Regions from separate parts of the Homo sapiens genome. Here region 2 is linked to region 1. Evidence: fine-mapped expression QTL. A gene starts in region 1. The other region holds a variant in brackets. All regions are shown on one strand. Distances are between the middles of the regions. Region 1 holds the start of SEC24C (SEC24 homolog C, COPII component). Region 2 holds the start of ZSWIM8 (zinc finger SWIM-type containing 8).

Region 1 (5,371 bases):
AGAAATTGACCTTATCAGACAGTGATCAGTTTAATAATCCTCACACTTCCACAGGATCTTAGTAATTTTCTGCCCCAGCCAGCATTCAGATTATCTCCTAAAAGCAAGGATTTTGTTATTCTGACCATCCACCCTTTGTCACTGTCTAAATAGTATAAATTTCAACTTCAGACAGATCCACTGAAATGGAGCAGCAGCCTCCATTCCCCAGTGGTATGATTTCTAGTGTCTAGTCACACAGTCTTGTGGCTGATGAACTACCTTGATGTTACAGGTGAAAGAAACAATGTTCCCACTTTCCATTCATTCACTCTAGCATCCATTCATTCAGCAAACATCGAGTACCCTCTAGTGTGCTGAACAATTGATTTAAAATCAATCAGGCTAAAAATCTAAAACAGATCTGCTAAAATCCTTCCCCCTCAATGACAAAATTTAGGCTGAGTTACAGAAATGACATTCTTTAGCTAAACTGCCATAATACAAATGATACTCCAACCCAAGTCTTTCCACCAAAAGAGTGTATGGACCTTAAAACTGAAGGTTTTTTTTTTTTTTTTTTTTTTTTGAGACGGAGTCTCACTCTGTTGCCAGGCTGGAGTGCAGTGGCGCGATCTCGGCTCACTGCAACCTTCACCTCCTGGGTTCAAACGATTCTCCTGCCTCAGCCTCCCGAGTAGCTGGGATTACAGGCGCGTGCCACCACACCCAGCTAGTTTTTGTATTTTTAGTAGAGACAGGTTTTCACCCTGTTAGCCAGGCTGGTCTCGATCTCCTGACCTCGTGATCCACCCACCTTGGCCTCCCAAAGTGCTGGGATCACAGGTGTGAGCCACCACGCCCGGCCAAAACCGAAGCATTAAAATCAATAAAAGTTGGCCAGGCACAGTGGCTCATGCCTGTAATCCCAGCACTTTGGAAGGCCAAGTCGGGCAGATCACTTGAGGTCAGGAGTTCATGACCAGCCTGGCCAACACGGTGAAACCCAGTCTCTACTAAAAATACAAAAACTAGCCGGGCATGGTGGCACACGCCTGTAATCCCAGCTACTTGGGAGGCTGAGGCAGGAGAAATCGCTTGAACCCGGGAGGCGGAGATTGCAATAAGCCGAGATCGTGCCACTGCACTCCAGCCTGAGCAATAGAGCAAGACGCCCTTTCAAAAAAATAAAAAATAAAGGACACCTGAAAACTCTAGCAAGGTAACAGATTAAAACCAAGTGCAGAACAGGCACCAAAACTTCTTCACATAATCTGAGGAAACAGTTCAAGAATCAGGGGCAAAGTTAGAGTTAGATTTCATGGAAAAAAATCATTCACCTCATCCCTCAAGCAGAAGACTATGAATATTCTAAATTCCAATGCACTTCTCCAACTCTCCTGTTTCTGCTCCCCTTACGATTGTTATGAATCTCAGCCACCATCAAAATTATTACAATCTTGCTCATCAACACAGGGATGAATTAGAGGGCCTTTTCTAAACAGGGTCCTTCCAAGAAAACTATCTCATCACATCTACTTTCAACAGCTGTATCATTCCAATTATCCTGTAGACAGAAGGGGCCCAGAAAGCAGGAGCACTCAGAGTTGCTGCAAAGGGAACAATGGACCTCTCCCCCTTTGCTAGAAGGGCCACCTTGACTATAGAAAAGGAGCTGATCCTGGTCTAAAACTCTTTAAACTCAAAGTTATCTCAATAGCTGTTCTTCCAAACCCTAAACCTTACAGAGGTAGGTCACTGACACTAAGTTTAAAATATGTCCTCTCCCTTTATGTTTCCAAAGCCGGGGGGAGGGGTAAAGAAAGGAGCTTCTTCTCCAGAAAATAATCCCCTCAAACACATTCAAGAGCTTGGAGTCAGACTGAAGTCTCGACTCCATTCTGGGTGGATAGTCGAGGGTGACAACCCAAGGGGGCGGGGCAAGCTTCCTAGAACTCTGAAAGTAGTCAAGCCATGGAGCCTCGGAGAGCCGAGGATCAAAACCGAGAAGCCAAGTCGGCTTCTAGGGCCACGTTAAGAGAGGGGGCTGCTCTGTTAAGCACAGAGACCAAACGTCTTGCACCTTTTAACAGGCTCGGGGCAGGAAGCAGGAGCCGGAATCTGGGCCGGGAGACGAAGGGATGGTCTAGGACCTGCTCCTGGATGGTGGATGCGTGAGGTGAGGGTCTCTACCCAGGCCCCGCCCCCAGGCTCCTCCCTTCTTTCTGAAACCGGACCCCAATCTGGCCAGTAATACCCTGACCTCTCCTTTGCTTTCCTACCCGCCAACCTCCCGATGCCACTCCTCACCCGGCTCCAGATCCAGGTTAGACTTCGTTCCTAACGTCAAGGCTCCCAGGCTCCACTTCCGGTTCCGAGGGGGCCGTCCCGTCACCCCCGGAAGTTCCTCCTCCACGCTTTAGGGCCGGGCCACTTCTTCTGCCACGTCTGCATTTCGGGGACCCGGATGCCGCGCATGCGCCTCTTTCATCTTCCCATCATGGCCGCCGCCTGTGCGCCTCTGCTGAGTCGTATGTATTTCCCTCCTGACATTTTTTTTCAGATGTTCCAGTCACTTTATGGCCTCACCAACAGAAATGAGATTAAAAAGAATTTGTCAAACTATCTTTAATAATGCCCCTTCACTCTGCCTGTGACGTATTAGTGACCTCTGAGCTAGAGTCTTGTAGTCACTTCCTGGTGACCCCTGACCCCGTTGATTTCCGTCCGCTAGGTTGCTCTCACCCATGGCGTTTGCTGGTTATGAGATTTGCGGAACGTGTGGTGGTGGTAAAGGGCACCAACTGTTGTCAACCTGCATGTGGGGGTCTGAGGTCTGGCTCTACAGCTTGTAAAATGGAAATAATAATGCCCAGAGGATGAAATTAGGCCACATAGGCCGCTTGGCATCATAGTAAGCACTCAGTAAAGGTCAATTGTTATTAACCATTTTTATACAGCGCCTTTGTTTAGGTGCAGAGCTTTATCAGAGCCAAAAGATCTCTGCGCTCTGTTGGAAAAGATAGTTCCTGCAGTAATTATTAGTACCCCATTTAATGGCTAAGTAATTATAGCTAACAGTGCTAGGATTTCTTTTTCATATATGACTTCATTTGAACTTTTCAGTACTATTTGTTGATTTCATAATTTTTCGAGCACTGCTGTTGAAACTGCCTTTGCAAAATTACAACTGAGGAAATTATGATAGTGGAAGAAATCAGACTTAACCGACTCCATCTTGCTTCTAACCTTTAAGCTGTCCTTATTCATTCCTGGGTGTAGGTGGAACTAACTTTGGGGAGGAATTCAGTTTATGGTTTGAAACAAAATTGATAATAGCCCCTTCCCGAAAAGACCCCCTTCTTGCCTGGGGACCAGTCTGTCTTTACAGGACTAACAAATTAGCTACAAGATTACAAATTACAGTTTAGGGGACATGCAGCCTCTCGCTCCAAGAGTCTGAACCTCCCCAAATTGCTTTTAGGAATAACATAACTATTGTAAAACCTAAGATTAGTGCTTGAGATGTTTTGCAGACCCTGCACTCATTGGATCAGCTGACTACCTAGACCAGTAACCTGGCTCAATCAGTTCTGCCATTCCACCCAGGAACAGAAAACAGCAAGAAAACCTCACTTTGACTCCCTGTGATTCCGTCTTCAACCTGACCAATCAGCACTCCCCGCTTCCCAAGCTCCTACTCGCCAAATTATCTTTAAGAACTCTGATCCTCAAATGCTCAGGGAGACTAATTTGTGTAATAATAAAACTCTGGTCTCCCACACAGCTGGCTCTGCGTGAATTACTCTTTCTCCATTGCAATTCCCTGGTCTTGATAAATCAGCTTTGTCAAGGCAGCAGGCAGGGTGAACCCACTGAGCGCTGACATTGTGTGCCAAGCCATGTTCTTGGGTCTGGAAATAGAGCAGTGAACAAAAGTGTTTGTTCTCATATTATTGACAGTAAATATCAGTTATTCTGAGGCACAGAGTGGTTTATTCACTGAAAAATTTGCACTTTAGGCTGTGCTGGAAACTATATATTAGGCATTGAGCATGCTTTACTAAACAAGCAGATTGTTCTTGTCCTCTGTTTTGTTTTGTGACAGTCTTGCTCTGTCTCCAGGCCGGAGTGCAGTGGCCCAATCTTGGCTCACTGCAACTTCCGCCTCCTGGTTTCAAGCGATTCTTATGCCTCAGACTCCCGAGTAGCTGGGATTACAGGCATGCGCCACCACCCCAGCTAATCTTTGTATGTTTGGTATAGACAGGGTTTCACTATATTGGCCAGGATGGTCTTGATCTCCTGACGTTGTGATCCGCCCCCCTTGGCCTCCCAAAGTGCTGGGATTACAGGTGTGAGCCACTGCGCCCAGCCTGTTTTGTTTTAGAGACGATTTTGCTATGTTGCTCAGGCTGGGCTCAAGTGGTCCTCCTACCTCAGTAGGAGTAGCTGGGTAGTTGAGTAGCTAGGGCTACAGGTATGTGCCCCCACATCTGGCTAATTTTTTGTAGAGGTGAGGTCTCCCTGTGTTGCCCAGGGTGGTCTCAAATTCCTCCCACCTTAGCCTTCCAAATTGCTGAGATTACAGGTGTGAAGCCACCACACCTGACCTATCAGTTTATAGTCAGTGGTTAAGTGTGATCCTCAGATCAGCAGTATCAGTAACACCTGGAAACTTGCTTGAAATGCAAATTTCAGACCCGCTTTACATAGATAAGAGCCAGAAATTCTGGAGGTGGGGCCCAGCAAGCTATGGTTTAAGGCCCTCCAGGTGATTCCATTGCTGATTGAGAACCACTAGTCTAGATGAATAATTTGCCAAATTCAACTAAGATATGTTGAGCACCTGACCTAAACTGGTCCTCTGCTAAGCATTTTCACATGATTCATCCCACTTGACTCATATCGATATAGGAAAGTAAATATCCTCTGTCTTGCTTAAGGTTGCACCCACTAGGGCCGGGCATGGTGGCTCATGCCTGTAATCCTAGCACTTTGGGAGGCCGAGACAGGCGGATCACCTGAAGTCAGGAGTTTGAGAGCAGCCTGGCCAACCCTGTCTCTGCTAAAAATACAAAAATTAGCTGGATGTCGTGGCACATGCCTGTAATCCCAACTACTCAGGAGGCTGAGGAAGGAGAATCGCTTGAACCCAGGGGACGGAGGTTGCAGTGAACCAAGATTGCACCACTGCACTCCAGCCTGGGACACAGGGCAACACTCCATCTTAAAAAAAAGGTTGCACCCCTGATAAGTGGTAGATCCTAGATTCAGTTTCTTTCTTCCCCCTCCCCCCACCTTTTTTTTTTTCTATTTGAGACAAGGTCTCTGTCACCCAGGCTGGAGTGCAGTAGCATGATCTTGGCTCACTTCACCCTCTGCCTCCCAG
Region 2 (5,371 bases), 43 kb before region 1:
AGGTTTGCTGGAGCTGGAGCTGGGGGACAGAGAGGCAGAGTAGGCGAGGCGAGGGGGCTCACATTGTAGCCAGGCATGCAGCAGAGAAGGGGGGGATGGAGTGTAGGATAGGGCCGGGATAAATTGGGAGGGCCTCACGTTGTGGATGCGGAAGAGACAGAGTGCCACGACGTGGGTGCACCATTTGGCCCCAGCCCCACAGGTACAGCTGCAGGAAGTGACCCGGCAGCGGTCAAACATCACAGCCACGTTGTAGGCCCCTTTAGGAGGGACCATCTGAGGTGGCACCACTGTAGCACTCAGGTGGAACCCTGGGGAGAAATGGGGGCATGGTCAGGGAGTGCTGTCAGGACCTGGGTCTCTGCCCTTGACCCTGGCCCTGCAGTTATTCAGACAACATGCTCCAGCTTCTTGCGGTGTGTTCTTACTTCATAAGCCAGGGGATGGGAGGAGCAGGATGTGCCACATGGCATGATGGCCCACTCACCTATCTGCAATGGGTCCTTCACAGCCCGCATGCGGAAGAGCTGATCCCCTCGCTGAAACTCATCCGCACTGCCATTGGCCAGGCACGAATACAGCCTGGGGGTGAAGAAGAGGACACAGCCACAACTCAGCAAATAACCTTTGGCAGACCCTGTCAGAGACCACAATGCCCTAGGCACTCTCTCCCTAGCCTCATTCCTTCCCCAGGGCGGGGGGTGGGGGGGAGGGAGTGGAATCCCAGGCAATCCCTCCCTTGTCTTCCTCTTACCACTGCCCCAAATACAATGTCTCCTTTGTTCTATGGGAAACCCAGCAGACAGTGTGGAGTATCAGGACCCCGCTCCCCACCATCAGTCCTTTGGCCTCACCGAATGTCCTCTTCATTCTCAGGGAAGCTCCAAAAAGCAATTCGGAGCTGTAGCTGCTCAGGCACTGGTGGGTAAACTTTCTCCACCACTTCAAATGGGATATGAAATGCCACCTGCTTTGCTGACAGCTCCACCAATGGGATCACCAGTCCATCTTTGCAAACAATGGTTGGGATCAGGGGAAAGAGAATAGGAAATGAAAAGGGCCATGGTCTCTTGGCACTCATGCCAGTACAACATCCTGGGCCTCATCTTCACTATGAAAGAAAGAAGAGACCTGGATGAAAGTCCTAGGGATCCCCCTATCAGGATACACTAACCCTTAAGGCTCCATATGGGAAAGGGGAGCTGGATAATCCCCAGCCCACAGCCGGCTACACCTAAGGTCTAGAACAGAAGATACCAGAGATATCTTAAGAAACTCCTGGCCAGACAGGTGCGTTCCAGGACCCTAGCAAGTAACCCTGCTCACATGGCTCAGCACTGAATTTCCCATATTCCATGAGCATTTTAAATTCAAATTACATGGTTAATGTCTCTCCTCTGGCATTCTTGTCTCCGATTGCCTTTTTTTTTTTTTTTTAACCATCCCTTTTACTCTAGATGACTGTAGGCCCCCAGCTAAGGAGACAAGATAGACCAGAGCCCGGAAGGGATCTCAAGAAGCACGAGAGGCCAGACCACTTTTGGCGCGCCTAAATGACAACTTCCCACACTGGAAACCCTCAAGGGGAGAGAGTTATCGCAGGGCACCTAGCTACTGCTGCAACTGGAATCACCTGGACTAAGATAAAGTTACCACTCAAGGTTTTCCACAGTGTTTTAACCAAAAAGTAGTGATAACATGACAAACTACATCTCACAAAATTGCTAGTCACATTAATAGATCAGAAAATCATAGAATTAAAAAGAACCTTTTTAGAAGAGTTAACCCCTTTATTTTATTTTTTTGATTTTTATTTATTTATTTTGAGATGAAGTCTCACTCTGTCACCCAGGCTGGAGTGCAATGGTGCCATCTTGGCTCACCACAACCTCTCCCTCCTGGGTTCAAACTTACCTCCCACCTCAGCCTCCCAAGTAGCTGAGATTACAAGCGGGTGCCAACACACCCAGCGAATCTTTTGTATTTTTAGTAGAGATGGGGTTTCACCATGTTGGCCAAGCTGGTCTCAAACTCCTGACCACAAGTGATCCACCCGACTCGGCCTCCCAAAGTACTGGGATTACAGGCACGAGCCACCGCACCTGGCCAACCCCTTTATTTTACAAGTCAGTGACTGAAGTCGGGGGACTGGGGTAATATGGCATGTTTTCCCAGATTTTAACCTGACCAGGAAGATACCAATATGTTAACAATCTTCATC[G/A]CTATGACTTCAGTTACTTCCCTCAAAGTGAGGGAGCACTAAGCCCCAAGACCACCCACATACTCAAATATGAAAGAAGCCAGAAGGCCACAGAAGACCCACGGTAAAACTGCCTATGATCTGTGTGTGTTTGTGTGTGTGTACACAGGCCATATCCTCTCTCCAACTGAAGCTGAATGCCACCAGTCCGCCACTCCTAAAAAGTGATATATATGCCGGGAGCGGTGGCTCACGCCTGTAATCCCAGCACTTCGGGAGGCCGAGGCGCGCAGATCACCTAAGGTCGGGAGTTCAAGACCAGCCTGACCAACATGGAGAAACCCGGTCTCCACTAAAAATACAAAAATTAGCCGGGCATGGTGACACATGCCTGTAATCCCAGCTACTCAGGAGGCTGAGGCAGGAGAATCGCTTGAACTGGGGAGGCGGAGGTTGCGGTGAGCCGAGATCGTGCCATTGCACTCCAGCCTGGGCAACAAGAGCAAAACTCCGTCTCAAAAAAAAAAAAAAAAAGTGATATATGTAAATTTCTCTCTGTCCCAAAGGAGCACCAGAAATCTCCACAAGCCAGTTTGGAAAACAGGACTCTTGGAAAGGCCTGAGTAGAATCACACAAATTAAACATCTCAACTGCTGAAAAAAGCCAGCTTCCACTGAGGACCAGGACAAAAACTGTGCCATGAGGAAGGCACAGCAGGCAAGTCCCAGCCTTGGCTTCTGACAGATATTTGACATGGCCAGAAGCAAAGTCTATGATCTAAACCTATGAACTATGGACTCTCTGGCAGGCCAGTTCACCTCTATTTTCCTCTGGGTAGGATCCCTTCTTGGTGCTTCTGGGATCAGAGATCATCACCCCGAAGCAAGAAGCTCCCAATGCACTTTGCAATGCGGTGACAAGCCACAAGTGGTCACTTCTTCACAATCAGCCCCCTACCCACATTCTCTTCCTCTACTTTCCGGTATGCCTCAGACTGAACTCACTTAAGTATTCCCAAGTCAAAGACAAGATTCTTCTCCCTTATCCCCTCTCTAAGGCAAAGGAGTGACGAAAGATTTACTTTCTGTCCACAGGATCTCCCTGTCACAGCGCGCGCACGCGCGCGCGCGCACACACACACACACACACCCACACACACACAGGTGTGGAGAAGCCAGCCCACCCCAGGAAGGCCGGAAAAGCGAGTTCTGAAGTCTGTTCTAAGCTTGGGACAGCTCCCAGTCGGGGACAGCTCCCGGCCGGGGACAGCTCCCCTTTCTTCCCCTGGTTGAAGAGAGCTCTTGGTCGGGGACAGCTCCTGGTCCCGGACAGCTCCCGAGCGAGGCCCAAGCAGGGCCTGCCGCTCCTCTTCCCCCCAGCTCACTCTCACCTCGCATTCTGGTACCGCCACTGCCACCTCCGCCACCGCCGCCAGTGGGGGAATTGGGCCCCGCTGACTGTTTGCGCCATCCCCGCCAGTTCTGGCAGAGGCTCTCGGCCTCGGAGATGAAGGAACAGAGTGAATCCTCCTCAAAACGGTCCGAATCCTCGAATGAGAAGCGCTCTCCGTCCTCCCACTCTGCAAACATCAGCTCCATGGGGCCCGCACCCCCCGGGGCCGGGTCCCCCCCCGCGGATCCGGGGCCTGGGCCGCCGGCCGGGGGTTGAGGGGAGGCCCGGGGCCTGAGGGGCGAGCCGGGGCTGGGGGTGGCCGGGGCGCTCAGGGCGGCCGTGCCGGGCGAGAATCTCAGGCCTGGGAAAGAGACGGGACCGGGCCTCGCCCAACAGCGCGGTGCAAGCGGTGATCTTGGCCAGTCTCCGAGACTTAGGGCCGGGACGAAGCGCTCGGCGGCTGGGGCCTCTAGGCGGCTGCGGAGCCGCCTCCCCCATCAGCTGATCTGGACTTCCGGCCGCGCGGGCCACCACCACTTCCGCCCTCGCGCGCTCGGGATCCGGATCGGGTACGGGCGGATGTAGGGGACATTTTTATTTAATGGCTGCATTTGCTTTTTTTCCCTCGAGCCCACCCTCAGACATCATAAGAGGAAGCCAACTCCCAACGTTATACGAAGCAACTACAGATCCCAGCAACAACTCGGAGTCCATAATGTCCCCAAGGCATAAACAGCCGCCATGCATGTTGGGAATTGTAGGCTGTCAGGAGAGGACAGCAACTATTGGATGGAGTTATTGTCTTAACTCTGGATAGGCCCCAGGGCCGCACCACCTTCTGGGAATCGTAGTCCAGAAGTCTGCAATCCAGCCGACCTTTTTATAGGGTCTAACTGGGGAAACATCAGAAAAGAATGCATTTGATTTCAGGAAATGGTTGTACTGTTTGTCCATACGGCCTTTGGATCTAGTAACTCAACCTTTTTTTGTGCCATGGACCCTTTAGCAGTCTAGGTAGGTTTCTGGACCCCCTTCTCAGATCGTTTACAAATGCACAAAATACCAAGAATTACAAAGGAAACCAGTTGTTTAAATACAATTATTAAACTATTAATAGAACAAATCTGTAACGTAATAGTGCTCCTTTATTTACACATTAAATGACAAGATCTAGGAGGAAGCGTAGTAACTATCATAATTTTGAAGCTAGTGATGAGTATAAATGCTTTTTGAGATATTTGTAACCAACTGTAACATGGTATGAAAATACCATGATTTCATATAGGTTTTGATAATGTTACTGTGGTTTGTTTTCCATAGCCCTGACTGAAATGCTAAATTTCAGTTGGAGTTAAAAATATAAATTATCCCCCAAGTTCACAGACGTCTTAACTGGAGTCTATTGACCTAGGTTAAGAACTCCTAAGGCCAGGCGCGGTGGCTTACGCCTGTAATCCTAGCACTTTGGGAGGCTGAGGCGGGCAAATCACGAGGTCAGGAGATCGAGACCATCCTGGCTAACACGGTGAAACCCCGTCTCTACTGAAAATGCAAAGAATTAGCCAGGCGTGGTGGTGGGCGCCTGTAGTCCCAGCTACTCGGGAGGCTGAGGCAGGAGAATGGCGTGAACCCGGGAAACGGAGCTTGCAGTGAGCCAAGATCGTGCCACTGCACTAGCGCGGGCGACAGAGCGAGACTCCATCTCAAAAAAAAAAAAAAAGCTAACTGAATTATGCCTGAAAGGGCAGAGTATACATAAAATGCTATGCAATTTTTCC

The links. PIP is the estimated chance that this variant, and not a neighbour inherited with it, causes the effect.
Region 2: its variant is the best candidate, but not a certain one, in a credible set for the expression of SEC24C in whole blood (TOPMed, PIP 0.69).

What each region holds. Positions count from the first base shown.
Region 1 is chr10:73,741,356-73,746,726 of GRCh38, reverse strand. It overlaps SEC24C (SEC24 homolog C, COPII component), which reads right to left and starts at 2,355. Exons shown (of 23, transcript NM_198597.3): 1 at 2,290-2,355. It overlaps LOC124902453 (a long non-coding RNA gene), which reads left to right and starts at 2,462. Exons shown (of 2, transcript XR_007062195.1): 1 at 2,462-2,510; 2 at 3,516-3,763. RefSeq lists enhancers at 1,840-2,406, 2,307-2,736, 2,407-2,974, 1,814-3,013, 4,679-5,246 and 1 more.
Region 2 is chr10:73,784,307-73,789,677 of GRCh38, reverse strand. It overlaps ZSWIM8 (zinc finger SWIM-type containing 8), which reads right to left and starts at 4,072. Exons shown (of 26, transcript NM_001367799.1): 1 at 3,592-4,072; 2 at 855-1,008; 3 at 488-582; 4 at 139-311. The coding sequence starts at 3,799. RefSeq lists enhancers at 1-1,120, 4,093-4,312 and a silencer at 3,753-3,972. The variant G/A (reference allele first, on the strand shown) is at 2,222.